2 separate regions of the Homo sapiens genome follow, and region 1 is linked to region 2. Evidence: fine-mapped expression QTL. Tissue or cell type: whole blood. Region 2 holds a variant in brackets; the other region holds the start of a gene. All regions are shown on one strand. Distances are from middle to middle.

The links.
Region 1: CLIC4 starts here. The variant in region 2 is fine-mapped to the expression of CLIC4 in whole blood (INTERVAL, PIP 0.97).

Annotation. Positions count from the first base shown.
Region 1 is chr1:24,737,321-24,752,751 of GRCh38, forward strand. It overlaps CLIC4 (chloride intracellular channel 4), which reads left to right and starts at 8,127. Exons shown (of 6, transcript NM_013943.3): 1 at 8,127-8,305. The coding sequence starts at 8,234. RefSeq lists enhancers at 5,618-6,223, 7,436-8,041, 8,042-8,647 and silencers at 7,729-8,438, 8,539-8,698, 12,160-12,239.
Region 2 is chr1:24,760,077-24,775,507 of GRCh38, forward strand. The region is part of intron 1 of CLIC4 (chloride intracellular channel 4); the gene reads left to right. Among named protein-coding and RNA genes, the nearest start is that of CLIC4, 22 kb to the left of the region's middle. The variant A/T (reference allele first, on the strand shown) is at 7,777.

The DNA.
Region 1 (15,431 bases), 23 kb before region 2:
TAAGTCAGCAGTGACTCAGTTCCCCAGTTCTCCTCCCTGGAAGTAAACACTTAAAAATTTTTTGTGTATTCTTCCAGAAATAAATGCATATAATAGTAAAATAATAACATTTATTGAACATCTACTCTATGCCAAGCACTGTTATGTGCTTTACATTTATTAACTCATTTACTTTCCATAACAACACCATGAAGTATAATTAGCATCACTTTACATGTGGAAATGAAGTGTAGAGAGCATAACTTGCTCAAACATCACACAGAAAGGAAGTGAAATATTTTACTCAAGTAAAGACGTATATGGCAGGGTTCCTTGCCTCCAAGAATCTCACAGTATACCAAGGAAGAGGACATTGATATGACTAGTGATACAGGTTGAGTATCCCTTATCTATCTTTTTTTCTTAAATTTTTTTTTTTAATTTAACAAAGACTGGGGTCTCGCTGTGTTCCCCAGGCTGGTCTCAAACTCCTGGGCTCGAGCAATCATCCTGCCTTGGCGTCCCAAAGTGCTAGGATTATAAGGGCGAGCCACCCTGCCTGGCCCTATTTTTATTTATTTATTTTTTTTGAGACAGGGTGTCACTCAATCACCCAGAACTGGAGTGCAGTGGTGTGATCACGGCTCACTGCAGCCTTGACCTCCTGGGCTCAAGTGATCCTCCCACCTCAGTCTCCTGAATAGCTGGAACCATAGGTGTGCACCACCATGCCTGGCTAATTTTGGGGGTTTTTTAGAGAGATGAGGTCCCACTATGTTGCCCAGTTGTTGCCCACTATGTTGGTCTCAAACTCAAGACCAAGCCAGGGCAAAATAGTAGGACCTCATCTCCACAAAAAAAGGCTCAAGTGATCCTTCTGCCACAGCCTTCCAAAGTGCTGGGATTATAGGTGTGAGTCACCATAACCAGGCAAGTATCCTTTATTTAAATGCTTGGGACCTCCATAAATATATATATATATATACCCACTGTGTCCCCACAAAAATTAAAACTTAAAAATTAAAAAAATAAATGCTTGGGACCAAAAGTGTTTCAGATATCAAATTTTGGATTATTTTGAATTTTGGAGTATTTGAGTATACATAATGAGATATCTTAGGGATGGGACCCAAGTCTAAACACGAAATTTATTAATGTTTCATATATACCTTATTCACATAGCCTGAAGGTAATTTTATACATTTCAAATAATTTTGTACATGAAACAAAGTTTGTATTCAGTACCTTTTTTTTTTTTTTGAGACGGAGTCTCACTCTGTTGCCCAGGCTGGAGTGCAGTGGCGCCATCTCGGCTCACTGCAAGCTTCGCCTCCCAGGTTCACGCCGTTCTCCTGCCTCAGCCTCCTGAGTAGCTGGGACTACAGGCACCCGCCACCACACCCGGCTACTTTTTTGTATTTTAGTAGAGACAGGGTTCCACCGTGTTAGCCAGGATGGTCTCGATCTCCTGACCTCGTGATCCGCCCGCCTTGGCCTCCCAAAGTGCTTGTATTCAGCACTTTTTTGTGGAATTTTCCACTTGTAGTGTCATGTTGGCACTCAAAAAGTTTCAGATTGTGAAGCATTTTGGATTTGGGGTTTTTGGAGTAGGGATGCTCAGCCTGTAATAGCTAGCACTTATTAAATGCTGATTATTAAATGTTTTAAATGGATTACCTCATATAATCCTCACAATGAGTTCCTGAAGTAGGTTCTGTTATACAGTAGTATCCTCTATATTCACAGTTTTGATTTCTGCAGTTTCAGTTACCCACAATCCAAAGATATTAAATGGAAAATTCTAGAAATAAACCATTTATTAGCTTTTTAAAAATTAATTAATTAATTAATTTTTATTTATTTATTTATTTTGAGACAGAGTCTTGCTCTGTCACCCACATTGGAGTGCAGTGGCACAATCTCAGCTCGCTGCAACCTCCACCTCCCAGGTTCAAGCAATTCCTGCCTCAGCCTCCTGAGTAGCTGGGATTATAGGCGTACATCACCACACTTGACTGATTTTTTGTATTTTTTTTTTTTTTTTTAGTAATGATGGGTTTCACCATGTTGGCCAGGCTGGTCTTAAATTCCTGACCTCAAGTGATTCGCGCATCTCGGCCTCCCAAAGTTCTGGGATTACAGGCGTGAGCCACCGCACCCGGCCCCATTTATTAGATTTAAGTGGCATGTCAGGGTCTTCATTCTGAAGGCTTCTGTGTATATATATTAAATAAATTTGTATGCCTTTTCTCCTATTAACCAATCTGCCTCATGTCAGTAACTTTTCAGTGAACTTTTAGGGGACCGGGAGCCTACGGCCTCCACAGTATGGTGCAGTGATCAGGGTGATCAAAGCTACTGTTCTGTTCTGGAAGCCGTAGTGAAGAGAACCCAGGAAACTCACCTGCCTGCAAAGGGGACACAATTGGAAACACCAGTTATTTTATCAAGGTTTTGACCAGAATGGGATATTTTAAAATATGAGCAAACTGCTTTGAGGAATTGAAATAGACTTTATAGAACTGATAAACGTCCCTTAGAAAGACTGGCCTTGTGCCTTGTTTATGCAGGTCCTTTAGAGGGTTCCTGACCTGTGGCCCTGCAAGCTAAAACTTACATCTTGTGATATAGAAAAGAAGACTAAGACGTGACCACACTTGAACAGGTCTTTTTATGAGGATAATGACTGTCTCCAAGGATCATTTAAATTCTAAAGAAAACTATTTACAAGTTAATCCCTGCTCCCCCATCCAGTCATTCTCCTTCCCAACCCCTTATTGCCCCTAAACAGAATTCTTCTCCCCCTTCACATAGCCTGTTTTACCAGGATGCAAGCTCCCATTCTTTCTGTAACCTCAAGATGATATATAAGTTTCCGTAATTCATGGGGGAGGTGGGTCTTCATTCTGAAGGCTCCTGTGTATGTATGTGAAATCAATTTGTATGACTTTTCTCCTATTAAAAAAATAAATAAAAAATAAGTTGCATGCCATTCTGGGGAGCATGAGGAAATCTTTTTTTTTTTTGAGACAGAGTTTCGCTGTTGTCACCCAGGCTGGAGTACACTGGCACGATCTCGGCTCACTGCAACCTCTGCCTCCTGGGTTCAAGCGATTCTCCTGCCTCAGCCTCCCGAGCAGCTGGAATTACAGGTGCCTGCCACCAAGCCCAGCTACTTTTTGTATTTTTAGTAGAAATGGGGTTTCACCATGTTGGCCAGTCTGGTCTCGAGCTCCTGGCCTCAAGTGATCCACCTGCCTCGGCCTCCCTAAGTGCTGGGATTACAGGCTTGAGCCACCGTGCCTGGCCCTCAGTTTCCTTATTTGTAAAATGGGGACAATGAAAATTATGCCTTGCAATGCTGGGGATGGTGGCTCATGCCTGTAATCCCAGCACTTTGGGAGGCCGAGGCGGGTGGATCACTTAATTAAGGTCAGGAGTTTGAGACCAGTCTGGCCAACATGGCAAAACCCCGTCTCTACTAAAAGTACAAAAATTAGCCAGGTGTGGTGGCACATGCCTGTAATCCCAGCTACTTGAGAGGCTGGGACATGAGAATCACTTGAACCTGGGAGGTGGAGGTTGCAGTGAGATGAGATTGTGCCACTACACTTCAACCTGGGCGACAGAGTGAGACTCCGTCTCAAAAAAAATAAAAATAAATATAAATAAATAAATAAATAAATCAAGCCTTGCAAGACCATGATGAATAAATATGATTGGATATGAAAGCACCCAGCTAGGTGTCTGGCATGCAGTGTGAGAGCTCAGTGACCGGTCAAGAATATGGACAGATGGGAATAATACCAACAGCTAGTGTCTACAGAGCACTTACAATCCAAGCTCTTAACATAGACTAATTTATCAATGATCCTATTAAATATTAATAGGTACTAATTTTAGATCCATGTTTACAGACGAGAAAATGGTACTAATTTAGATCCATTTTTACTGATGAGAAAATGAAGCACAGAGAGGTTAAGTAAGTATCCTGAGTTAGTAAATAACAGAAGCAGGATTGGAACCCAGGCAGTCTGGCCCCAGAGTCCATGTGCATAGCAGCTCATTCTGCTGCTGAAATTGCAGAACTTTGGGCTGAGACAGTCAGCGAGCAGCACCACAGAGTTAGAAGTGGGAGGAGGAAAGTGTCATCAAGGGAGGCTTACTGGAGGAAAACCTGACCCCCTGTGTAGGGGCAGTCATAAACACAAACCACCTGGCTTCCCAGACTGGAAGAGCGTGACAATCCAAATGTCATGTCAGGGGTACATGAAACCATAGGATAAACATGGTACAGTCACTCACTCCATAAGCTATTTTTTTTTTTTTTTGAGACAGAGTTTCGCTCTTGTTGTCCAGGCTGGAGTGCAATGGCGCAATCTCGGCTTACTGCAACCTCTGCCTCCCAGGTTCAAGCGATTCTCCTGCCTCAGCCTCCCAAGTAGCTGGGATTGCAGGCATGCACCACCATGCCTGGCTAATTTTTTGTATTTTTAGTGGAGACGGGGTTTCTCCATGTTGGTCAGGCTGGTCTCGAACTCCCGACCTCAGGTGATCCATCCGCCTTGGCCTCCCAAAATCCTGGGATTATAGGCGTGAGCCACTGCGCCCGGCCCACTCCATAAATTTTTATTGTGTACCATGAGCTGTCCTCTGAGCCAGGAATATAGCCATAAACAAAACCAAACAAAAAATCCCTGCCCTTATGGCATTTATGTTCTAGTGGGAGAAGACAGACAATAAGCAGATAAATAGGTAGATATGTATCAGAGGGTTGTAAGTGTTATGAAGAGAGATAAAGTGGAGGGTGGAGTGAAAGATAGCAACTTGCAACGTTGCATAGGGTGGTATTTGGGGAGAGCGCTCTGAGAAGATGACATTTGAGCAAAGAGCCAAAGGAAGTAAGGGAGTGGGAGTTGCAGAAATTCTGGGGGAAGAATGTTCCAGAGAGGGGGAAGAGCAAATGCAAAGGCCCTGAGGCCACAGTGTGCTTCGCATATCCAAGGACTAGAAAGGAGGCCAGTGAAGCTGGGGTGGAGAGCACAGGGGAGAATGGTAGGAGATGAGGTCAGAGGGGTGTGTGTGGGAGGAGACAACATGTCTCCACCCATCTTAAAGATTTCTGTGTGCTATAAAAACAAGCCTGAGTAAAGAATGTAAAGCAGGCATGCAATTCAAAATTCGAAGAGGAGACTTGACTGCTATGTGGTTAGGGGGCCTCCCCTGCATAAACATCCTCTTTCCCTTTCACCCACTCCCAGGACTGACTGCCCATCCATGGGAGCCATATGAGGGCGGAACTTGGGAAACTGTAGGTGTGACTGAGACTACGTCTAAGCACAGGCTCTGGGTCTGAGCCTCTTCCTGGGGGGCTTCCTGTTGGGTAGGAGGAGCCCAGGAGATCATCACCACCTCAGGGCTCTGTGGAGAATGCCCCTGGCTTCCTCCTAGCTAAGATCTCTGTTTAGTCAATGAAGCCTAAAGGGCCCTGGTCTGTTCCTCCTTCCATACCCTGGTGCTGTGAGGCCAGTTGGAGCCTGTGAAGGGCAAGTCACCACCGGGAATATTTGCTGCCTCTAACTCAAATTCTTTTTTTTTGAGATGGATTTCGCTCTGTCGCCCAGGCTGGAGTACAGTGGCGTGATCTCGGCTCACAGCCACCTTTGCCTCCCCGGTTCAAGCGATTCTCCTGCCTCAGCCTCCCGAGTAGCTAGGATTACAGGCATGTGCCACCACACCCGGCTAATTTTTGTATTTTTAGTAAAGATGGGGTTTCGCCATGCTGGCCAGGCTGGTCTCGAACTCCTGACCTCAGGTGATCCACTCGCCTCGGTCTCCCAACGTGTTGGGATTACAGGCATGAGCCACTGTGCCCGGCCTCAATTTGATCAATTCTCAGGTACATTGAGTTTCTGCTGAATTGTTTTTTGGCTTAGATCTGCTTTGAACTGATTCACCATTTGGTTCCTTTTTGGTAGGGCAGAGAGGGTGGATTCTGGAAGGAAACTTTGCTTCAGTTCATGATTCTATGAAAAATTAACACGGTTCAGTCCAGAGTCTAGTCAGTCACTTCAGGATTTTCATGGTTCAAGCCCCCATCTAAGGGGAGCCTCCTGGAATTTATTTATTTATTTTCAACGAACTAGCCGGGCATAGAGAGAGTAGAATATGATGCCACATTCTAGCCTGCAGGGGTGGTAGGGACAGAATAAGTCTCAATGCAGTTAACAGCCATACTGACGGAGCAGCACATATGGTAAGGCAAGAATCAGTAATTAGCCCCACCCACTTCTAGATAATGAAACTGAGGCTTAGGGGTTTTAAGGACACTGCCTTGTCAGATTTGAACTTAAACAGTCAGACTACAGAGCACGTGTTCCTGACCACTGGGATACACTGGCTCTTTCACAGAGCCTCTGTGAGAAAATTTGAGCAACTTACTTTGGGCTGGCAGAGGAAGAAATTGCAAGTTTCACTGTATTTTCATGCCTACGTACAATTTGTTCAAACATTCTGGTATGTGCTAGGCACCGAGGATATGGAGACAAACCTCCCATGTCTGGGCCTCCTGGAACTCACTATTTATCCCAACCTGGGAAGTTGGGAGGAGTAGCTGTGAGTCAAGTATTATGGAAAGTCAGAAAAGGGCACAAGTAATTGTTTCCAGAGGAGGTGAAACTTGCCCCAGGCACTCAACAGCAGCAAACTAGGACCAGGTGCCTACAATCTCAAGGCAAGCACAGCTCTTGCCCTCGGGGGCTTAAATCCCAGGGCAGTTTAACTGGTTTGCGGACCACCTACTTCAGAATTGTCCTGGTGCTTGCTAAGATGTGGATTTCTCTTTTTCCCAGAGGATCTGGGAAACACAAAAAGCGGGGCTGCGTGTAGCACCTAGGTGATTCTGATGCACACTCAAATTTGACAGGTGAGCCGGGGGGAAGAAATGGGTGTGGGCAGTGGGGAACAAGATGGACAACGACTTGGAAGTCCTTAGTGGCCTGCAGGCACTGAGATTGCAGTTCAAGATCTTGAGCTTTGGGAGTTGTTACTCTCCAAGGGCTAGCTCAGAGCCTGAAACACAGTAAGGTTTCATAAATATTTGTGAATATGCGCCCGGCGCGGTGGCTCACGCCTGTAATCCCAGCACTTTGGGAGGCCGAGGCGGGCGGATCACGAGGTCAGGAGATCGAGACCATCCTGACTAACACGGTGAAACCCCGTCTCTACTAAAAATACAAAAATTAGCCGGGCGCGGTGGCGGGTGCCTGTAGTCCCAGCTACTTGGGAGGCTGAGGCAGGAGAATGGCGTGAACCCGGGGCAGAGTTTGCAGTGAGCCGAGATCGCGCCACTGCACTCCAGCCTAGGCGATAGAGCCAGACTCCGTCTCAAAAAAAAAAAAAAAAAAAATATATATATATATATATATATTTGTGAATATGCTGGCTGCCAAGATCGAAACGATCAGGAGCGTCAAAGGGAAAAACGAAGTCAGAGGCAGAAGAAAAAGGTGTTCCCCAGGCGATGAAAACTTTCCAGTAAGTTGTCTTGGAAAAGGCAACTCCGCGTAATAGAGGGACTTGGGGAGGTAGCCGCTGCGGGAAAGGGCGATGAGTCCTGGGGTGCTGCAGCGGGGGAGTGGGTAGGAGGCGCCTCCTAGCTTCCCCAGGGCGGCCGAGGCATGAGGTCACCTGGCACAGCAACAGCAGCAGCTGCGGAGGACGCGCAGGCGCTGCGGCGGGAGGCAGTGTCAGGCTCGGGCCCCTGGGGAATTCCTCCCCTCCTTTCCCCCCCGCACCAGTCCCCTAGAGAGGCGTACCCGGGTCCCGCCCGCCAGAGCCTGAGCTTTGTACCGCCCACCAAGGCCACGCCCCCTACCAGCTGTGGGGCGCCGCAGAGGTCCTTTCTTCGGCTCCGGAGCGGTCCCTCCGCCTTCCCCGCTCGAGGCCACGCCCCCGTGCTCCTGCCGCCTTATTTTCCCCGGAGAGTCCCGAGGCGCCGCGCCTTGGCCCTGCCTACAGCCCGAGGCCCCGCCCCCGGCGCCCCTCCCAGCCGTTTGAAGCGGCTCGGGCTGCGGCTGGCTCAGAGTGGCGCGGGGGGCGTGGGGCGGTGCTGAGGAGCTGAAGCCGTGGCCAGCTCGACGCCGGACAGTCCAGCGAGCAGCACGGCGGGAACCGGCAGCCGGAGCAGTCCCGGAGCAGAAGCAGCAGCAGCAGCAGCAGCCCTCGCCGTTCGCGGAGCGCAGCCGAGCCGGCCATGGCGTTGTCGATGCCGCTGAATGGGCTGAAGGAGGAGGACAAAGAGCCCCTCATCGAGCTCTTCGTCAAGGTGAGCGCTCGCCTCGCGGTCCCGCCCGGCAGATCCCCCGGCTCCCTCCCGGCTGCGGGGAGCGGCGTCCCGGGGCTCTCCTGAGGCGCCCCCGCTCGGCGCCAGCACCCGTCCCGCTGCGGGCACCCGCGCCCCCGGCCCATTGTCTGGGGGCCGCCCGCGCCTTCCCGCCTCCGAGGGCCCGTCGAGGGGTCCGGGTTGGGGACCCGGGCGGCGGCCACCGTCTCCAGCGCGTAGGCATCGGCGGACGCCAGACCAGCGTCCCGCGCCCGGGTGGGTCGGGAAGAGCCCACGGGCGGGACTTGCCTGCCCCGGGGCCCCAGCGCCGGGCGCGCGCGGGTCCTGTCACCACCCCCCGCCCGGGCGCCGGGGCCCGGCCCCACCCGCTCCCCAGCGCTCCGGTCCGCCGCCCGGAGCCCGAACTGCGGCCCGCCGCCCGATGAGCTTTCAAACGAACTTCTTTGAACGCGTTTTTGAAAAAGCATTTGCTCCCCACTGGTCTGAAACGGAAACTTTAATTTTCGATGCAATCTTAAACAAATTTACCAAAGAGCAGGTGCTCTTGGACCTTCGGAAAAGACCGAGATTCCCAACTTGTGTTTTTCTGTCTTGGGCATTTACTGGCTTTCTCGTTTCTCAAGCGCGGAGTGTTCTGTATGATGCAACATTTTGGCTTCTCCCCCCGGCGTTGCTGCTTCGGGAAGGATTGTGTGTGCCCTTTTGTTTTGAAAGAAATTGAGGGAGAGAATTCTTAACTTGCTTGGGCTTTAAAGGGTTGGTTTTCCCTTGTGTCTTCAGCTTTCATGTGTGGAATTTATTTGCTTACACATACTACCCCTCTTCCTTTGCTTTTCTCTTTAATACTTTTTATTTTAGCAAAGGAGAGAGTCGAAGTTATAAACATCTGGATCCAGCTCCTTCCCTCAAAACTTAAAAAAAACACTTTGAGCTTCTTCCAGCCACTTAAAAAGCCAGGCTCATTCAGAGCTAGGCAACATACCGGAAAGTAAATGGTCATCTAGAACTATTGGGTTCTTTTTTTTCCCCGAGTTTTTACTTTAAAGAAAGGACATTTCAGGATGTGTTTAAGAGATAGAGAAGGGCTGGGCGCGGTGGCTCATGCCTGTAATCGCAGCACTTTCGGAGGCCGAGGTGGGAGGATTACTTGAGTCCAGCCTGAACAAGATGGCGAAACCCTGTCTCTACAAAAAAATTCAAAAATTAGCTGGGAGCGATGTTACGCGCCTGTACTACTCTGGAGGCTGCGGTGGGAGAACTGCTTGAGCCCGGGAGGTCGAGGCTGCAGTGAGCCACGTCGCACCACTGCATTCCAGCCTGGGCGACAGAGCAAGACCCTGTCTCAAACAAAAGAGATGGAGAGAAGAAATAATCTGCATTTACCTCTGCAGTCTTCAGTAATGACTGGAACAGTGTTTGCCTTAGGATTTTCTTTCAATTGTCAATTTTCGATTTTTTTTTTTTTTTTTTTTTTGGTCCAGGGAACTGAAACAGCAGACAGGTATAGAACCCCCAAAATATCAAAGCGTTTCGGTTACTTTGAGTGGCAGATATAGTACTTTGAGATGCGTAGAATGTAGGAAGGAACCTGAAATACAAGAAAGGAAGGAGGCCGGGCGCGGTGGCTCACGCCTGTAATCCCAGCACTTTGGGAGGCTGAGGTGGGCAGATCACGAGGTCAGGAGATCGAGACCATCCTGGCCAACATGGTGAAACCCCATCTCTACTAAAAATACAAAAATTAGCTGGGCGTGGTGGCGCGTGCCTGTAGTCCCAGCTACTCGGGAGGCTGAGGCAGGAGAATTGCTTGAACCCGGGAGGCAGAGGTTGTGGTGTGCGGAGATTGCGCCACTGTACTCCAGCCTGGGCAACAGAGTAAGACTCCATCTCAAAAAAAAAAAAAAAAAAGAAAGAAAGGAAGGGTGGTGGGTGGAAAACAGCATGGAGAAGGGAAACAAGTGGGCCAGAGATGAGTTAAAAAAAATTTTTACTGAGTGAGGAATAGGAAGGAATTTCCATAAACTCAAAAAAAGTGCATCCATGAATAATCTGTAAAACATGATACTTAACGGTGAAACTTTAGAACAGTATTAAACTTAGAATAAGCTACTATCGGGCCGGGTGAGGTGACTCACACCTGTAGCATTTTGGGATGCCGAGATGGGGAGATCACTTGAGGCCAGGAGTTCGAGACCAGCCTGGCCAACATGGTGAAACCCTGTCTCTACTAAAAATAGAAAAATTAGCCAGGCATGGTGGTGGGCCCAGCTATTCGGGAGGCTGAGGCATGAGAATCGCTTGAACCGGGGAGGCAAAGGTTGGAGTGAGCCAAGATCAAGTCACTGCACTCCAGCCTGGGCGACAGAGTGAGACTTCGTCTCAAAAAAAAAAAAAAAAAGATAAAGCTATTATCAGTTATGGCTCTATTCAGTATTCTATTATTCTATTGGAGGAGCTAATCAAAGAAGACAAGAAAAATTAAGTATCTGAATTAGGAAGAGATCAGTGATTAATGCCCTGCTTACTATTAATTTCATCTTTCAGTTAGAATAGCAGAGGGGCGTGTGCAGTTTTCCAAACTTGAGTCACTTGCATCCCCTTTCTGTTTTTCATATTTGTGTTGAGAACCACTGAAAATCATCCTTCCTACCACTAGTTGTAAGCCTTTCTCATTGGGCTTGGTGGCAGAGAATCAGGGTTCAAGTCACAGTTCTTTACTCCTTGGTTGGGTGACCCTAGGCAGTTTGTTTTCACTCTTTAAGCCTTGTTTGTCTCATTTGTGAAATAAGAAATGTTTTCTGCTACCCAGTGATTCAACATAGGCAAACTTTGCACTGATACAGATCAGGTTTTTTGTTTTTTTTTTTTTTTTTTTTTTTAATGAGATGGTGTCTCGCTCTGTCACCCTGGCTGCTGGAGTGCAGTGGCGCGATCTCGGCTCACTGCACCCTCTGCCTCCCAGGTTGAAGTGATTCTTCTGCCTTTGCCTTCCGAGGAGCGCATGCACCACTACGCCTGGCTGATTTTTGTATTTTAGAAGAGACTGGGTTTTACCATGTTGGCCAGGCTGGTCTCAAACTCCTGACCTTAAGTGATCTGCCTGCCTTGGCCTCCCAAAGTGCTGGGATTACAGGCTTGAGCCTCTGTGCTTGGCCCCTAGACCAGTTTGTTTGAAAGGGGAAAAAAGGACAGGTAAAATGTGGTAAAGGGCATTCTTGATCTCTTCTCAAAACCTACGTGTGGGAAATGCAAATGGGGGAAATACCCTTGTAAATATAGTTATTTTGAAAGCAGTGGACCAGGTGTGGTGGCACACTCCTGTAATCCCAGCCTTTTGGGAGGCGGAGGGGGGTGGATCACTTGATGTTGAGACCAGCCTGGGCAACATGGCGAAACCGCATTTCTACTAAAAATACAAAAATTAGCCACGCATAGTGGTGCATGGCTGTAATCCCAGCTACTCGGGAGACTGAGGCAGGAGAATTGCTTGAACCTGGGAGGCGGTGGTTGCAGTGAGCCGAGATAGTGCCACTGCACCCCAGCCTGGGTGACAGAGCAAGACTCCATCTCAAAAAATAAAAATTAAAAAAAAAAAAAAGAAAGTAGAGAGGGTGCAGAGGCTGTGGTTGTCCAGAGTGGTATGTTGAACAGTGTTAACCTGCCAAGAGGTATCTGAGTTTGTAAAAGAAAACTATTTACAGTTGAAGCACATAGCATGTATGGAAATTAGAAATTTGGTGGTGGCGCTAGGGGAAAGGCCAAGAGATGTAATGGGGCTTTGAGCCTACCTGTCTAGCTAGCACTGAGCTTCACATTTAAGAGAGAGAGATGAGCACCTTCTCAAATAGTATGACTGAACTCACAGCTGCATTTCCTTCCTTGTGAGTAGTTTTTGGAGTTGTCTGCCTGTGAGCCCATTAACTCCCTGTCATCTATATAACAGCAGGATGGTTTTTTTGGTTTGTTTTTGTTTTGTTTTACCCTCAACATCTGGAGGATAGATAGGATGCCCTCTCAAAAGTAAAAAAGGCAGCTGGGCTGTGGTGGCTCACGCCTGTAATCCTAGCACTGTAGGAGGCCAAGGAGGATGAATCTTTTGAGCGCAGGAGTTCTAGACCAGCCTGGGCAACATGGCGAGACCCTGTCTCTACAAAAACTATTAAAAAAATTGCCAGGCACAGTGGCTCACGCCTGTAATCCCAGTACTTTGGGAGGCTGAGGCAGGCGGATCTCTTGAGCCTAGGAGTTCGAGACCAGCCTGGGCAACGTAGCAAAACCCCATCTCTACAAAAAATATAAAAAATTAGCTGGGTGTGGTGATACATGCCTGTGGTCCCAGCTGAGGTGGGAGGATTCCTTTAGCCTGGGAGGCAGAGGTTGGCTGTGAGCCGTGATCGTGCCACTGCACTCCAGCTTGGGTGAGACCCTATCTCTAAATAAATAAGTAAGTAACTAAGCTGGGCCTGGTGGCCCACGCCTGCAGCCCTAGCCCTAGAGGCTGCGGGTGGGAGGATTGTTTGAGCCCAGGAGTTCGAGGCTGCAGTGAGCTTATGATCATGTACCTGCACTCCAATCTGGGTGACAGAACAAGACCCTGTCTCGGGAGGAAAACAACAAAGGCTTATAATGGCAATCATCCTCAACAGTGGAGATGCTCTCTACCCCACTCAGGAGCCTGGTAGGTGTATATATTTCCAGCTGGGAACCACCAACAGATACGGTATATTTGAGACCTTTTAGCAAGGGCATAAGGTCCCTTGTAATCTGGGTTTCTTTCTTTCTTTCTTTCTTTCTTTTTTTTTTTTTTTTTAAGACGGAGTTTCGCTCTTGTTACCCCTCAGCCTCCCGAGTGGCTGGGACTACAGGTGTGCACCACCACACCTGGCTAATTTTGTATTTTTAGTAGAGACAAGGTTTCTCCATGTTGGTCAGGCTTGTCTCGAACTCCTGACCTCAGGTGATCAGCCTGCCTTGGCCTCCAAAAGTGCTGGGATTACAGGCGTGAGCCACCGAGCCTGGCCTACTGCCTGAGTTTCTAATCCAATATGTCCAGTTACTAATTGTGTATCCCAGGATACATCACTTAAACCTGTCTGTGCCACATCTGCACAGTTGGGATATTAGTAGAACAGTCCTATGGGATAAATTAATATATGTAGTATGCAACAATCTTAGAACAATGTCTAGTACACAGTAAGCAAATAAATGCTAGTTGTGTATAATTTTGTATGAATATATATTTATAGGCAGATCTCCCCTACTAGATAGACAGTAAATTCCTTGAGGATAGGGTGTGCATATGGTTCAGAGTGCCTGCAACTTAAGAGGATGCCAAATGTTTGAAATGAGATTGTGCCCTTCTTTCAGAGAATTCTGTTGTTGAGCATTTTGTTGTCAATGTATGTCTCTACCATGCTTTGGAATTAGAAACCACTTACTGAGATCCCGATGGTTGGAGCATCAAAGCATGGTTCTTCATCCTGATTTCTCTAGCCTCCAGTCTCCAAACCCAGTGTAATTTTATGTACTCACCTCTTTTTTTTCTCCATTTAATACTTCCAGTCTTTTTTTTTTTTTTTTTTTTGAGATGGAGTCTTGCACTGTTACCCGGGCTGGAGTGCAGTGGCACGATCTTGGCTCACTGCAACCTCTGTCTCCCGAGTTCAAGCGATTCTCCTGCCGCAGACTCCCGAGTAGCTGGGGTTACAGGCACCCGCCACCATGGCCAGCTAATTTTTTGTATTTTTAGTAGAGATGAGGAGCTAATTTGTATTTGTAGTAGAGACGGGGTTTCACTATGTTGGCCAGGCTGGTCTTGAACTCCTGACCTAGTGATCCACCCGCTCGGCCTCCCAAAGTGCTGGGATTACAGGCGTGAGCCACCGTGCCAGTCTTTTATATATTTACTAGTGTTTCTTCTTGGCTATGTCCAGAATTTGGGGAACCAAGATTTTTGTTTGGGTAAAACTAAATATTAACTCTTGAACCACAAATGAGAGTAATAGAGATGGGGTTTCTCCATCCAGCTTGGCCAACATGGCGAAACCCCGTCTCTACTAAAAATACAAAAATTAGCCGGTCGTGGTGGCGGGCGCCTGTAATCCCGGCTACTCGGGAGTCTGAGGCAGGAGAATCACTTGAACCCGGGAAGCGGAGATTGCAGTGAGCCGAGATTGTGCCATTGCACTCCAGCCTGAGGGACAAGAGCAAGACTCTGTCTCAAAAACAATCAAATCAAAAAACAGAAAGTAATCCCTTTGCGGAGTTCAGTTTTATGGGCTGGAATTTAAACTTGTTGTTGTGCCACTGTGAACTGGGATGATCACTGTCAGCAAGTAGTCACCAAGCTGCTGGGATTGGGGTGGTGTTTGTAAAAAGTTAATCTGGTGCAGGGTGGCATAACACATAAGAGTCTGTTTCTTTTGAGATATTTGGCAGAGGTTCCTAATGTGCTTGGACTCTGGAGCCACACTGCTTGACTTGAATCTGGCTTCTAGTATGTCAGGCAAGTTTTTAAGCTCTCAGTGCTTCAGTTTCCTAACTTCTAATATCAGGATAATAATAATAGCAATTTTATATGGTTACTGAGGGGATTAAAACTGTTAATCTGTGCATATTAGTTAGGGTAGTTTAAGTTGCTGTAATAAGTTATCCCCCCACAAACAGTGGTTCAAATATGATGGAAGTTTATTTCTCACCCCTCAGTCCAGGAGAATGTCTTAGATGTTAGGGTGGCTTTCCTCCTCAGAGTCATTAAGGGACCCGGGCTCTTTCTAGCTTATTTGTCCACTAACTCCCAGAGCATTGTCCTCTTCTGAATTGTCAAAGTTGGTGGGTGACAAGTACTGTCTGTTGCCAGTGGGGGGTGGAAAATATGGAGGAAGCACATCTTAAGGGCCCCAGCTCAGAAGTTCTACCTGTTACTTCCGGTCACATTCTATTGGAGAGAACTTAATCACATAGCTTCATCTGCAAGAGAGGCTGGCAAGTGTGGTCTAACCGTATACCATCCTATGTAAAGCTTTAGGAAGAGTGCTTGACACATAGTAAACACCTGCTTTTGTCATCGATAATAGTTTATTATTATTATTTTTTTTTGAGACGGAGT
Region 2 (15,431 bases):
AAATAGGGGCCAGATGTGGTGGTTCATGCCTGTAATCCCAGCACTTTGGGAGGCTGAGGCAGGTGGATCAGTTGAGGTCAGGAGTTTGAGACAGCCTGGCCAACATGGGGAAACCCCGTCTCTACTAAGACTACAAAAAATTAGCCAGGCGTGGTGGCGGGTGCCTGTAATTTCAGCTACTTGGGAGGCTGAGGCAGGAGAATTGCTTGAACCTGGGAGGCGGAGGTTGCAGTGAGCCTAGATTGCACCACTGCACTCCAGTGACAGAGGGGGACTCCATCTCAAAAAAAAAGAAAAAAGAAAAAGAAAAGAAAATCTTAAATAGATCCTGCTTTCCCTAGTTGTTTATTGAATTAGATACAAAGTCTTTGATCTGGCATTGATCTAACTTGTATTTCCACTCTTAACCCCCACCGCAGCTGCAGATATGCCTCATATTGTATCTAGATTGGTCTTAAACATGCTCTGCACTTCTCTGCCTTCATGGAAGACTTTTGCTGATATTTCCTTCACTTGATACACTTTTGGCTTTTCCACCCTCTCCCTGCCCCCAATTTCTGCTTGCCAGAATAATATCTGTTCTTCTTTCATTCATTTATTTAACAACTATTGAGACACTGTTGTAGGTGCTTGGATACACCTAGTGAACAAAGTTCTTGTCATTATGGCAGTCATATTCAGTTGAGGGAGGCAAACGATAAATGCTGGTGATTAAATGCTGTGAAGAAAATGAAGTAGGTTAAGGAAATTTTTTGAAGTAGGTTAAGGAGTATTGACAATGATAGGGGGTGCTATTTTCAGTTTAACGGGGCATTCCATTATCCCTGTGGAGAATGACAATTAGGAAGGCAAGGTCAGAAGCAGGGAGACTAATTAGAGGTGACTTTTCCAGTAATCCAGGCATGAGATGATGGTGGCTTGGAATAAGGTGGGAAGTTGCTGGATTCTGGATATATTCTAAGATGGAGACAACAGAATTTCCTGAGGGACTGGATGTGGAATGTGAGAGAAAGAGGAGTTAAAGATGATTCTGAGATTTTTGTTCTGAACAGCCAGAATGATGGAGTTGTCATTAACTGAGGTGGAAAAGGCTGTGGGAAGGGCTAGTTCTGATGGGGAGGAGATCAGGAGTTTAGTTTTTTGACGTGTTAAATTCAAATTTATTAATACCTCATAGAACCTATCATCTACTTGGAGAGGCATATGTTAAAGAAACATATAAATAAGGACAGTAGGTTATTATATCAAAGAAAAGAACAGGGCAACTTGAGAAAGAATGGCAGGAAACCCAATTTAGATGGAGGCTCAGTGAGAGCTTTTCTGAGAAAATGACATGTAGGATGAGTAGTAATTAGAATGAGGGGAAAAGCGTTCTAGGTTGAAGGAATCAGCATGTGTAAAGGCTGGAAATAATCAGTTAAGGGTGTGACTGGAAAACAGAGAACAAAAGTGAGCAGTAGAGTGAGGGATTGACAGGGGCCACATCATGGAGGGCCTTGTATGTCATGTGAATTTTGTCCTTAGTAGAAATGGCAGTTCTCAGATGGGTTTAAGTGAGGGAGCTTCAGGATTAGAGTTGCATCTTAATATGAGTAGCCTGGCTCTGTGGAAAATGAATTTAAGGGAGGCAAGAGTGGCAATAAGGACAACTATTTGGAGGCCATTGCCATCAAGAAAGGTGATGGTGGCTTGGATTAATAAGGTGATGGAGAGAAGAGAATGGATTTGAGGTAGATTTTGGAAGTGGTGTCAATAGGAGGATGTTAAGGAGGTATGTGAGAGAGAAAAGTGTGAGAAATGACTTGGGTTTGTAATTAGAGCCACTGGTCAAGAGTTGCCGTTCATGGAGAGGGAGGAGGAGCAGACAGAGTTCAAGTTTTGACTTGTTGAGTATAAGATGGCTGAGATGTCAAGTGGAGATGTTGGTAGAAAGTTGGACCTACAGATCTGTTCAGAAAGAAGTCTAGGCAGGGTAGAGATATTTGGGACTTGATGACATACATATATGTATATATGACATACACACACACATAGAATATTTGGTATTTAAAGTGTATGAGGCTGGATGTGGTAGCTCACACCTATAATCCCAGCACTATGGAAGGCTGAGGTGGAAGATTTGCTTGAGGCCAGGAGTTTTTGACCAGTCTGGGCAACATAGCAAGACCCCATCCCTGCAAAAATAAAAATAAAAAATCAGCTGGGCGTGATGTCACATGCCTATAGTCCTAGCTACTTCAGGAGGCTGAGGCAGGAAGGTTCACTTGAACCCAGGAGTTAGAGGCTACGGTGAGATATGATCATGCCACTGCACTGCCTGATGACGGAGTGAGACTCTCTCTAAAGAAAAAAACAAGTGTATGAGATCATTGTGTGGATGAGTAAAGAGTGAGGAAAATGCCTAGAAGCAAGTTCTGAGGAACTCTAAACACTTAGGGGTTGGGTAATGGAGGAGAAGCTAGACAAGGAGAACAAAGAGGAACTGTGGGGGAACAGTAGTGAGTGGTGAGAGGAAAACTACTAGAGTGAGGTAGGAAGAAGCTAGGAGAGGTTTGTAAGGAGGGAGTGACCAGTTGTATCAAGCTGAGTGTTTGTTGGATTTAACACCCTGGAAGTTACTGGCAACCTTCGTAGTAACAGCTTTGGTGGAGTAGTGGTGGTGGGAAGTCATAATACAGCGGGTAGAAGAATGAAATAGGAAGTAAGAGACTGGAGTCAGTGTGTAAAGCCAACTCTAACAAGAAACTTGGCTATGTAGAAGACACAGGTTGATAGCTGCAAAGGGGGATACATATGAAGGGAAGGCTTTAAAAAGTATGAGCTGTAAGAGCTGGGTTGAATGCTGATTTATTAGAGAAAGAAGTGGAAAATTAAAGAGAGACATGGTTTAATGGATGTCCTTCAAGGAATCTCCCAAATGGCCACCTATTCCACTAGGTCCCCCTCAGTGGTATGTATTGCTTCTTCGTATGAATTTTCATACAACCTTCCCTCCTACTTCTTTACTTGAGGCCAAGTAAACTCTGTGAGGAAGAAATTTTGTTCTTCATCTTTGTATAAGCCAGACTGTCCAACACTATGTTTTTTTGAAGAACCAGCTAAGACAGGTTCTTCCTTTTCCTGACCCCCACACTCTGCAAGTGCAAAAACCATTTTGTTGGTCTCTACTAAAGAAAGAATTGGCTGGGCATGCTGGCTCACTCCTGTAATCCCAGCACTTTGGGAGGCTGTGGTGGGCAGATCATCTGAAGTCGGGAGTTCGAGACCAGCCTGACTAATATGGAGAAACCCCGTCTCTACTAAAAATACAAAAATTAGCCGGGCGTTGTGGCGCATGCTTGTAGTCCCAGCTACTTGGGAGGCTGAGGCAGGAGAATCACCTGAACCTGGGAGGTGGAGGTTGCAGTGAATCGAAATCATGCCACTGCACTCCATGACAGAGTGAGACTCCGTCTCCAAAAAAAAAAAAAAAAAAAAAGAATTAAGTTCAAATCTATAGTCTGGCATTCAAGTCTATGACCTTCATAGTCTAGCTCTAATTAATTGGACAAATTTATCTCCTACTTCTCCTGGGTCTTACAGTCCAGCTAAATTGAACTCTTCTTTGTTTCCATATGAGCTATCTTGTTTCCCTGAAGCAACCTTTCCCATCTCTTCCATTCCCATTTGTTTAAACTCCATAATCCTGTAAATCTCCATTTAAATGTGTCTGCCTTTGTTAATCCTTCAAGATTCATATTTCATGCCTCTTATATGACTCTTCGGTTATCTATTTTGTTGATAGTTTTGCATGTATGTCTTATCTTTGCTATAATAAAGTAAGCTCCAGGAGAGTAGATTCCTTGTCTTATTCATCTTTGCGTCCACCACGATATTTAGTAGATTGTCTGCCTCATAATAGGCATTCAGTAAGTCTTATTGAATGAGTAAATGCACTTAAGTATAGTTGATAGACCTTAACCTACTGCTAGTAAATTATAGTTGGCTAAAAATATTCTTTATAAGTGCTGTGCTTTGGAAAAGGATCATCTGCTTAGCAGCACTGTTTGGTGGGTAGTTGTTGCCCAGGCTGGAGTGCAATGGCACAATCTCTGGCTCACCGCAACCTCCGCCTCCCGGGTTCAAGCGATTCTCCTGCCTCAGCCTCTCGAGTAGCTGGGATTACAGGCATGTGCCACCACACCCGGCTAATTTTGTATTTTTAGTAGAGACGGGGTTTCTCCATGTTGGTCAGGGTGGTCTCGAACTCCCAACCTCAGGTGATCCACCTGCCTTGGCCTCCCGAAGTGCTGGGATTACAGGTGTGAGCCACCACGTCCGGCCAAGGCTCACACTTATAATCCCAGCACTTTGGGAGGCGAGGCAGGTGGATTGCATGACCAGCCTGGACAACATGGTGAAACCCTGTCTCCACAAAAAATGCAAAAATTAGCTGTGTATTGAGGCACACGCCTATGGTCCCAGCTACTTGGGAGGCTGAGGTGGGAGGATTGCTTGAGCCCAGGAGGCGAAGTTTGCAGTGAGCCAAGATAGTGCTACTGTACTCCACCCTGGGCGACAGAGCAAGACCCTATCTCAAGGGAAAAAAAAAAAAATTCATACTCTGGTATCTTCTGGCATTTCACAGAAGGGCATCTGGATTCCTGCCAAAATTGATTCTTTTGTCTTTTATTAAAAATAATCTTTCAAGCAAATTTGAGATTCACCACTAAAGCCCTAAATTTGTTTTTATTTACTTTGTGTTTTAACTCTCTCTCACTGCAGGTTTGTTGTTGTTGTTGTTGTTGGTTTTTTGGTAAGTACAGAGACTACAAATTTAAAAAATCTTTCATTAAACATGTCTTTACTAAGTGCCTACTAGGAACTGCTCTAAGCTCTGGGAAGCAAGAAAATGTACCCTCAGGTGTCAGTAATGAATGAGCTATAAGGAAGGCGTACTATACACAATTATCTTAGATGGGATAATATTTTCCACTAGAGTTATTGTAACTCACTGCCTGGGAGGCCTTTTCACTTCTAGGAAGATCTGGTTTTCCTATATTTAGAATAGATACTGTTCCCATTGACTGTTTTCTGTTGGATTTCTTAAATGCATGAGATAGAAGAAGTATATATGGAAAAGCATTTCATATTTAATTGAAATAATATATACATTTATGGAGTGCTTTCTATGTGCCAGGCACTGTGTTGACTACATCTATGAAATATTAACTCATTTGATTGTTACTCAATAAAATGTTTGCTGAAGGAATATATAGAAGCTTTTATTTTTTTCCGTGCACAGGCTTAATTTCAGAGGAGGTTGGGAGGAAAAGAAGAACTAAAAGATCACATGATTGGGAAAAAGCAAATGCCTAACAAGAAGCCAGAGAAATAGGTCGAGAGGGTGATGCAAATGACTGGGCTCAGTTCATATTTTAGATTGAAATAAACAGATTTACTTGTTTTTCCTTGCAAAGTAAAAAAGTTTTAAGGGAGAGTCTGCAACTGTGTTTTGACCCTGAGCATGTGGCTTGATAGCCATTAAGATTAGGAGTGTTGAGAGCAGCTATTGTCCTGATGACTCAGCAGGAACCCCTGTGTTAGATTATACCGTTGCCTCCGTATTGCATGTAAAAAGTTCTTTATATCTTTTGAAATATTTGAGATCATAGATCCCAAAATCAGAGCCAGGGATGATTGTTTACTTGAAGTATCATTTGTATTTTTCTTTCCTTCTTTTTCTTCTTTCTTTCTTTCTTTTTTTTTTTTTTGAGACAGAGTCTCGCTCTGTGACCTAGGCTGGAGAGCAGTGACGCCATCTTGGCTTACTGCAACCTCCACCTTGTGGGTTCAAGCAATTCTCCTGCCTCAGCCTCCCAACTAGCTGGGATTACAGGCGCCCACCATCATGCCCGGCTAATTTTTAAAATTTGTTTAAATTTTAATTTTAGTTTTTTTTCTTTTGAGATGGAGTCTCGCTCTGTTGCCAGGATGGAGTGCAGTGGCGCGATCTCAGCTCACTGCAGCAGCCTCCACCTCCCGAGTTCCAGCTATTCTCCTGACTCAGCTTCCTGAGTAGTTGGGACTATAGACGTGCCACCACGCCCAGCTAATTTTTGTATTTTTAGTGGAGACAGGGTTACACCATGTTGGCCAGGATGGTCTCAATCTCTTGACCTCCTGTTCCACCCACCTTGGCCTCCCAAAGTGCTGGGATTACAGGTGTGAGGCACCACGCCCGGCCTATATTTTTAATAGAGACAGGGTTTCACCATGTTGGCGAGGCTGATTTTGAAATCCTGACCTCAAATGATCCACCTATCTTGGCCTCCCAAAGTGCTAGGAATATAGGCATGAGCCACTGCACCTTTTTTCTTTTTTTTAGATATCAGGTCTTGCTATGTTGCCCAGACGGTTTTTTTTTTTTTTTTTTTTTTTTTTTTTTTTTTTTTTTTTTTTTTTTGAGACGGGGTCTCACTCTGTCACCCAGGCTGGAGTGCAGTGGCACAATCTCAGCTCACTGCAACCTCCGTCTCCTGGGCTCAAGTGATTCTTGTGCCTCAGCTTCCCTAGTAGCTGGGACTACAGACATGTGCCACTGCAACTGGCTAATTTTTTTGTATTTTTAGTAGAGACATAGTTTCGCTATGTTGGCCAGGCTAGTCTTGAACTCCTGGCGTGAAGTGATCCGCCCACCTTGCCCTCCTGAAGTGCTGGGATTATAGGTGTGAGCCACCACGCCTAGCCAGTATTTCTGTCTAGGTGCTGAAATAGTTTCTTTTGGAATTGAAGACCATTTGAATTAATATTTCAAGTAGGCAATTGAGTCATCATAATGGAAGACTGGATCTTTAGTATTATGCTGTTAGAGTATGCAGTGTCCAGTCTTTTGGCTTCCCTGGGCCACACTGGAAGAAGAATTACCTTGGGCCACACAAAAAATACACTAACAATAGCTGATGAGCTAAAAAAAAAAAAAAAAAAAAAAAAGAAAAAGAAAAGAAAAACCAAAAAAACCTTATAATGTTTTAAGAAAGTTTATGGATTTGTGTTGGGCTTCATTCAAAGTGGTCCTGGGCCACATGTGGCCCACGGACCTCAGGTTGGACAAGCTTGATGTAGTGGCTAAGAGTGTGGACTCCCGAGCCATGTGGCCTGTGTTTGAATCCTAGTTCTACCCTTCACTAGTTGCCTTGGTGTCCCCACTGGGGTAATCTTGGGCTTTTGTAAAGATTATAAGAGTTAATATAAGAAAAGCCCTTAGAGTCTAACTCATAGTAAGCCTTGTTTGCTTACTATTTTGCCTTTAGGAATGCAGAATTAAGACCATGTTGGCTTGGCCTATGGTTAGTTTATTATATTCAATATACCATATGTGGTTTCAACCTTCAGGATTAGAAGCATCTGCCAGACTGCCACTACCACCAGGTGGGAACTTTTCATTCTTTATCAAAAGAGCAGGGTTAGTACAAAAAAAGTTCAAGGTTAAGCTTGAGTTTGCTCTTGAATTAACTTCAGTGAACCCTGATCCTGTTGACACTTACTAGGTAACTAAAGGACAGTCAGATTGGACTCTGCCATCTTAGTCCATCGGCCTCAGCAGCTCTTGCTGGACTTGTAGCTAAAGCTTGAGAGTCCATTAGTAGTGAGAATGTTTTTCTTTTTTTCCTCTCTCTCTTTTTTGTTAATGTGAAAGTGCAAAAGTAAAGAGGAATAATCTATGACATAGGATCTTATTGGTTCTGTACAAATACTCTTAATTAAAAATTTTTAATTAAAATTATATATATATAT[A/T]TTTTTTTTGGCATGGAGTTCCGCTCTGTCGCCCAGGCTGGAGTGCAGTGGCATGATCTCGGCTAACTACAACCTCTGCCTCCCAGGTTCAAGCAGTTCTGCCTCAGCCTCCCGGGTAGCTGGGATTACAGGCGCTTGCCACCACGCTTGGCTAATTTTTGTATTTTTAGTAGAGACGGGATTTCTCCATGTTGGTCAGGCTGATCTCGGACTCCTGACATGAGGTGATCCGCCCTCCTTGGCCTCCCAAAGTGTTGGGATTACAGGTATGAGCCACCACGCCCAGCCAAAATTTTCATTTTTTTAAGATATGGGGATCTTGCCATGTTGCCCAGGCTGGTCCCAAATTCCTGAACTCAAGTAATCCCCTTGTGGTGGCGTCCCAAAGTGCTGGGTAAAAGTACTTTTGAATTATGGATTTTGGCTTCCTGTGCTACCAAATTTCACTATTTCTTGATTTTTGTGGTATTCACCTTTACAACTGAACAGGTCATATATTAACTAGCCTTTATCTAATGCTTTCTTTAAAGGAAATGTAGACGTGCTTATATTTTTAACACATCTACATTTCTCTTAAAGAGAAGAGATTAAGCTCTTTTTATTTAATTTGTCTGGAAGAAGTTGAGATAGTGTAGATCTACAGGTTTTATATTTAGTAATTTTTAAGGAGTAAAAATGAAGTCTTCTAATTTTTCTAGACTCTATCTAAGATTATTGTTTTTAGACTTTTTCATCTTATACCACAATGAGATGATAAAGCTTAAAACATTAACATGTCGGCCGGGTGCGGTGGCTCACGCCTGTAATCCCTGTACTTTGGGAGGCTGAGGCGGTCAGTCAGGAGTTCGAGACCAGCCTGGCCAAGATGGTGAAACCCCATCTCTACTCATAATACAAAAATTAGGAGGCATGGTGGCATGTGCCTGTAGTCCCAGCTACTCGGGAGGCTAAGGCAGAAGAATCACTTGAACCCAGGAGGTGGAGGTTGCAGTGAGCCGAGATTGTGCCACTGCACTCCAGCCTGGGCGACAGAGTGAGACTCTGCCTCACCAAAAAAAAAAAAAAAAAGAAAAAGAAAGAAAACTTTAGCATGTCTGTAATTGGTAGATATAATCTCTATCATTTATTTAATGATAATTAAAAATAGCGGGGCATGGTGGCACATGCCTGTGGTCTCAGCTACTAGTGGGGCTGAAGCAGGAGATTGAGGCTGTAGTGAGCCACTCTGATTGCACCACTCCACTCCAGCCTGGGTGGCAGAGTGAGACTCTGTCTCAAAACAAAAGAAAACAAACAAAAAAACATAATGTAAGAATCATGAAGTGACTTTAAAATCTTTATTTTATAATAATGTTATAAGTTTTCTGAAGCTACTTAATTTATCACTATACAGAATAAACAGATATATAAAAAATGATCAGTAAGTTTTTGTTTCCCTACTAAAGCCAGAATAATGGTCATGAGGTAATAGATAGCATTGGGTGCTTACTATGGGCCAGGCACAGTGTGCCAGCCGTTTGCATGTGTTAGCTAATTTAATCCTCATATAAACTTTGAAATAGGTGCTATCAATACTGTTTAACACATGAGAATTAGAGAGATCATTGTTTGGGTATGGTTGCAGGGCCAGTAAGTAGCAGTACTGTGATTTGTACTAACGTCTTTGGGATTTCAGAACCTGAATCAATAACTTTGTTTATGTTATTTTTCTCTATTTATTTGAAACTTGAATGCTTTCCTAACAGAATTTCTTATGTTCTGTTTTCAGTCACCCTGAAAAAAAAATTCTGAGAATATTTAAGGATATTTCTAAAACATACTAACAACTAGTGAGCCTAGATGGTTCATTAGATGACTTTGGTTGCTTTCAGTTCTCTTGGTAAAATTTGAAAGGCAACTAAAATTTCCATTACCTCACCTCGTTGCATTTTGGGGGCCTGGTTAATTAGTATTTTATAAAGCACTTTAGAGGGTTTATTTATAAACTTGTTAAGGAACCTGACTTGAATGTCTTTTTTTTTTTTAAGGCAGAGTTTCACTGTTGCCCAGGATGGAGTGCAGTGGTGTCATCACAGGTCACTGCCACCTTGACCTCCTGGGCTCAAGTGATCCTCCTCCTTTAGCTCCCTGAGTAGCTGGGACTTGCAGTGCCACCATGCCCAGCTAATTTTTTTTAAATTAATTTTTTTGTGGAGATGAGGTCTCACTGTGTTGCCTAAGATGGTCTTGAACTCCTGGACTCAAGTTATCCTCCCACTTTGGCCTCCCATTACAGGCATGAGCCATTGTGCTTGGCCTCACATATTTTGATTTTAGGATTGTTTTCCAATTGAGAAATGTCTAAATGGTTCAAGTTTAACAAAAATCATATACTAATTTGTTAATTATTTTTCTGTGAGTTCTTTTCTTTCTGCCCTCTCCCTTTCTCCCTTCCTCCCCCTTCAGAGGTTGGTAGAAAAAAAAAAAAAAGGCAAGGAAGTTTCTTTTTGTGGAGAGAGGAAATGACTGTTGGTTCAAGACTTTATCCATATTAGGTATAAACTAAATATAGACGTGTAATCCAGGAGTGAAGTCACATCTATAAAGTTTCTTAAGCAAAGCTAATGAGATCAGCCAGTGCTTTTGGATCTGTTTTTTCCCCCCTTGCTTTTGGCTCACTTACCAAACTGATTAGTCTTATAGTCTGCCTGCCTTTGCTTCTTTAAAAAAAGAATAAAAAAATTATAAGGAATCTTTCTGTAAAACAAGCACACAAATTTTTAAAAAGTTGCTTTGTATATGAAGCATAGTCACTTATGCCTCCCTTTGAGGGGAGGTTATAAATAAATTAGCTTCTTTAATTTCTTGACCTTGTCATTTTCCTCACACCAATTCTTCTTCTTTTTTTTTTGTTTTTTGAGTTGGTTTTATCCTTGAGTCTTTGTCACATATTTTTACTGTGAGGCTGGACTCATCTTTGTAAGTTGTAAGAAACGTGTTTTACTTAGTATTTTCTTGGTTTATTCCATTTTTAACCATTAAAGCAGATCTCAGTATGGCTAAATGGTAATAGGATTTCTTCTGATTGGCTGGTTAGAGAGATTGTAATAGAACGGAATGATGGAATAAATCTGCTTCTGGTCACAGCACATGTCCTTCTCAAATAAGGACTTTGAAAAGTCCCCCAAAGCATTCTTACAATAATTATTTCCAACTCTTGTGTTCCTTCTTAGAGCCCTTTGCAAGCATTCCTAAACACTCAAGCCCTTACGAACGTGCTATGCTTCTGAAGAGAAGAACTATATACACACATCTGTGGCGCATCTTACTATAAATACTTTGGAATACAACTAATTGTGTAAAAAGTTTAGCTTAACATATTTCGGGGTTTTAGGGATCAGTTCATGAAACTAAATGTTCTCCAAGCCTAAGTTGGAATCTGTTCTGAATCCTTCTCTGACCATGTTGTTCCCTTAGCAGAACTACTCTTTCCTACTGTTTGGGGCAGTTTGTGCATTTTTATATTCTGCCACTCATCTGAATCACCTTTAATTACATTTTTGTTCCAGGCTAGAATGTAAATTCCAGGAGATCAAGGATAAGGGATTATTTTCTTTTTTCTTCTTTTTATATTTTAAATTTAAAAAATTATTATGTTCTTCTAAAGACTAAGGGACTATTTTCTTCATCTTTTATATCTACCCCCTACCACAAACCTTTATATATAGGAGATAATTCATTAATTCAGTAAGCATTTATTAGTGTTTTTTGGCAAATTGGTGTGCATAGTATAGGAATATAAGCATGTAAGAGAGAATATATTAAATATTTTCTGTTATTGTGTTCTATATTACCTCATAGTAAAATACCAGAGTTAAAAGTAGTATTCAGTTATTGAACTTGAGACATGTAATTGGGGTTTTGTAACTAGCTACTCACTATATAGCTATTGGTCTAAACCTAACAGATTGGTTTAGAGAACTAGAATATTATGTAACTGGAAGGCCAGGTTCAAGTCCTATGTGTATCCTAATTGATCTGCTACCTCATCTGTCAAGTGGGTGTATTTCTTGGAGGTGATGTTCAGTCCAGTTTGTATTATTTTATATGCCAAGGTAGCCTTAGGCTTGGCTTAAGCTTAGGCTTAGGCAGAAAGTTGAGCCCTGAGATTCCAACGTCAGATCCAGAGAATTAAATTCTCATAATTAGAAGCAATCTATTAGATAACAAAAATAGAGCCAATACAAATTCTTCATGATAATGGAGGCAGTTTGCCAAAGAAAGAAAAAATATTTCAGGAGTGAATTCTTTGACCCGAAAGAATATATTTTATTTCCCAGGTGAGCTCCTGAAAGAAAGTTTAAGGAAAGATTTTGTTTGTTGTATCTAAAATAAAGCAGACACAGAACCATTCTTCTTCTTCTTTTTTTTTTAAAGCCAGTCAAATTTATAGAATTTTCCTTCATCATATTTGAGTAACCTGTGCATTGAAATCCGAAGTAAAATATTTCAGTAAGAAACATCCTGCTATGTTATACTCTTCAGATATTTGAAGTTTTAGGCCAGCAAAGAAGATAGACAAGAATTCTGAATATTAACTTTCACAGCTGAAATACAGTGTTGAATATATAATTTTTGCGGAAACTAATTTTGTAATGTATATATATAGAGAGAGACGGAGTCTTGCTCTCTCGCCCAGGCTAGAGTGCAGTGGCACGATCTCAGCTCACTGCAGTCTCCGCCTCCCAGATTCAAGCGATTCTCCTGCCTCAGCCTCCTGAGTAGCTGGAATTACAGGTGCCCGCCACCGTGTCCAGCTAATTTTTGTATTATTAGTAGAGACGGGGTTTCACCATCTTGGCCAGGCTGGTCTTGAACCCCTGACCTCATGATCCACCCACCTTGGCCTCCCAAAGTGCTGGGATTACAGGTGTGAGCCACAGCGCCCGGCTGATTTTGTAATATATTTTAATGAACATTTAAAAATACATAATCCAAAATTAAAACAAATGAGGAAGATTCATTAATTTATTCATGTTTGTTGAGAGCTAATATTTTATACTATTAATAAAATATTGTATAGCATTTTCATGATTGCAGTTTTTCATTGTTTATGGTCATCTTCATTAATCCATTGTTCTTAGTCATTTAGAGGTCTGAAATTTGGCTTTAAGCAATATTGTGATATATATCCTTACAGCCAATTTTCTGTGCATGTCAAGCAATTGTGTTTTAAAAGTCCCCCACATATCTCATTTACCCTCTGAATTCTTTATTTTCCTTTTGTTTACTTAAACTGTAATCTCTCTTTTTTCACACTTCACCTGGAATGTAATCTCTTAAAAAGAAAAAACTTTCTGCAGAATTTAGGTTTTTTACAAAGGGAAAATTGGATTTTTGACTCTACTACTGAACTCTTGGTGGAGTGTCTAGTTAAAATTGGTCTGAGAACTTGATGAACAGAAATAGCTGCCTTAAGCATAGATGGGGAAGAATAATATTAATTTCTTGAACATTTCATTGTTTTCTTGTACTCTTGGGATTCTTTGTGAATCTAGTTTATACTACAGTATAATGTGTATACCCTTAAGGAAAGTGGGTTGCTGCATTTTGACTTGCAGAAGCATTTCACCTATGTCCCAACATAGTTGTCTTTAGTTGATAAACAAGGGAAGACCCTGGCAGTTAGTGAATTTATCTTTGGTTAGCAGATATTTTTTAAAAATGAGGGCTAGACAATGAAAAAGTTTGAGATGCACCTTTTTTTTTTTTTTTTTTTTTTTTTGACAGGGCCTCACTTTGTCATCCAGGCTAGAGTGCAGTGGTAAGATCATAGCTCACTACATCCTTGACCTCCTGGGCTCAAGTGATCCTCCTGCTTAAGCCTTCTGAGTAGCTAGGACTAAAGGTGTGTACTACCATATCTGGCTAATTTTCTTATTTTTCATAGAGATGGGGGTCTCACTGTGTTGTCCAGGCTGGTCTCAAAACTCCCAGCTTCAAGTGATCCTCCCACCTTGGCTTCCCAGAGTGTTGGGATTACAGGTGTGAGCCATTGCACCCAGCCAGAGATGCACTTTTTTTTGATGTAACCAAAGTGAGAATAATTATAAAGGAGCATGTTTCTTTTTTATTTTAATTTTAATTTTTTTTGTTGTATAAATGGAGTCTCCCTCTGTGGCCCTGGCTGGAGTGCAGTGGTGCGATCTTGGCTCACTGCAACCTCTGCCTCTTGGAGTCAAACAGTTCTCCTGCCTCAGCCTCCCGAGTAGCTGGGACTACAGGTGCACACTGCGACACCTGGCTAATTTCTTTTGTATTTTTAGTAGAGACGGGGTTTCACCGTGTTGCCCAGGCTGGTCTTAAACTCCTGAGCTCAGGCAGTCCGCCTGCCTTGGCCTCCCAAAGTGTTGGGATTACAGGCGTGAGCCACCACGCCCAGCTAAGTAACTTCTTTTTTAAATAAAATAATCATGGATTAATATAATAAAAACAAATTAGTGTTCTGTGTTTCTGAAATTAAGTCATTTAGTGCCAAACTTTCACATTCTAAATAGTTGTATCTGAAAATGTCTTGACTTCTCTTCCATTCTTTAAAGATGGTTTTGTTGGAAATAGAATTTTGAGTTGATTTTTATTGTTGTTATTGTTATTCTTTCAGCAATTTAAAAAATGTTCTTGACTGGGCGTGGTGGCTCATGCCTGTAATCTCAGCACTTTGGGAGGCTGAAGTGGAAGATCTCTTGAGCCCAGGAGTTCGAGACCATCTTGGGCAACCTAGTGAGACCCTGTCTCTACAAAAAATTGAAAAAATAGCTGGACATGGTGGCAGGTGCCTGGTCCCAGCTACTTGCGAGGCTGAGGTGGGAGGATGGCTTGATCCCTGGAGATCGAGGCTGCAGTGAGAGCTGCGCTTCAGCTTAGGCGACAGAGCGGGACCTTGTCTGAAAAAAAAAGGACCGAGGGCAGTGGCTCATGCCTATAATCACAGCACTTTGAGAGGCCAAGGTGGGTGGATCACCTGAGGTCAGGAATTCAAGACCAGCCTGGCCAACATGGTGAAAACCTGACTCTACTGAAAATACAAAAATTAGCTGGATGTGGTGGCGCATGCCTGTAATCCCAGCTACTGGGGCAGCTGAGGCGGGAGAATCGCTTGAACCCAGGACGCACAGGTTGCAGTGAGCCGAGATCACACCACTGTATTCCAGCCTGGGTGACAGAGTGAGACTCCATCTGAAAAAAAAAAAAAAGAAAGTGATTCCATGTTTTCTGGCCTCCATTACTCCAAATGATAATTCAACAGTCATTCAAATTATTATTTCCTTGTATGCAATGTGTTGTTTTTTTCTAGCTACCGTGAAGATTTTCTTTTTCTTCCTTTCTTTCTTTCTTTTTTTTTTTTTTTTTTTTGCTTTTCATTATTTCAATTATGATATACTTAGGTATGGCATTATTTGTATTGAATCTGCTTGATGTTCATGAAACTTGAATCTGTAAATTTGTCTTTTTTTGGGAAAATTTTGGCCGTTATTTCTTGAAATATTTTTTTCCTCATTGTCTCCTTCTGGAACTCTAAAATATAAATGTTTTAGTATTTTCCCGTAGGTCTTTGAGGCTCTTTTTTTTCTGTTCTTCAAATTGAATAATTTCTTGGTTCTGTCTTTATGTTCACA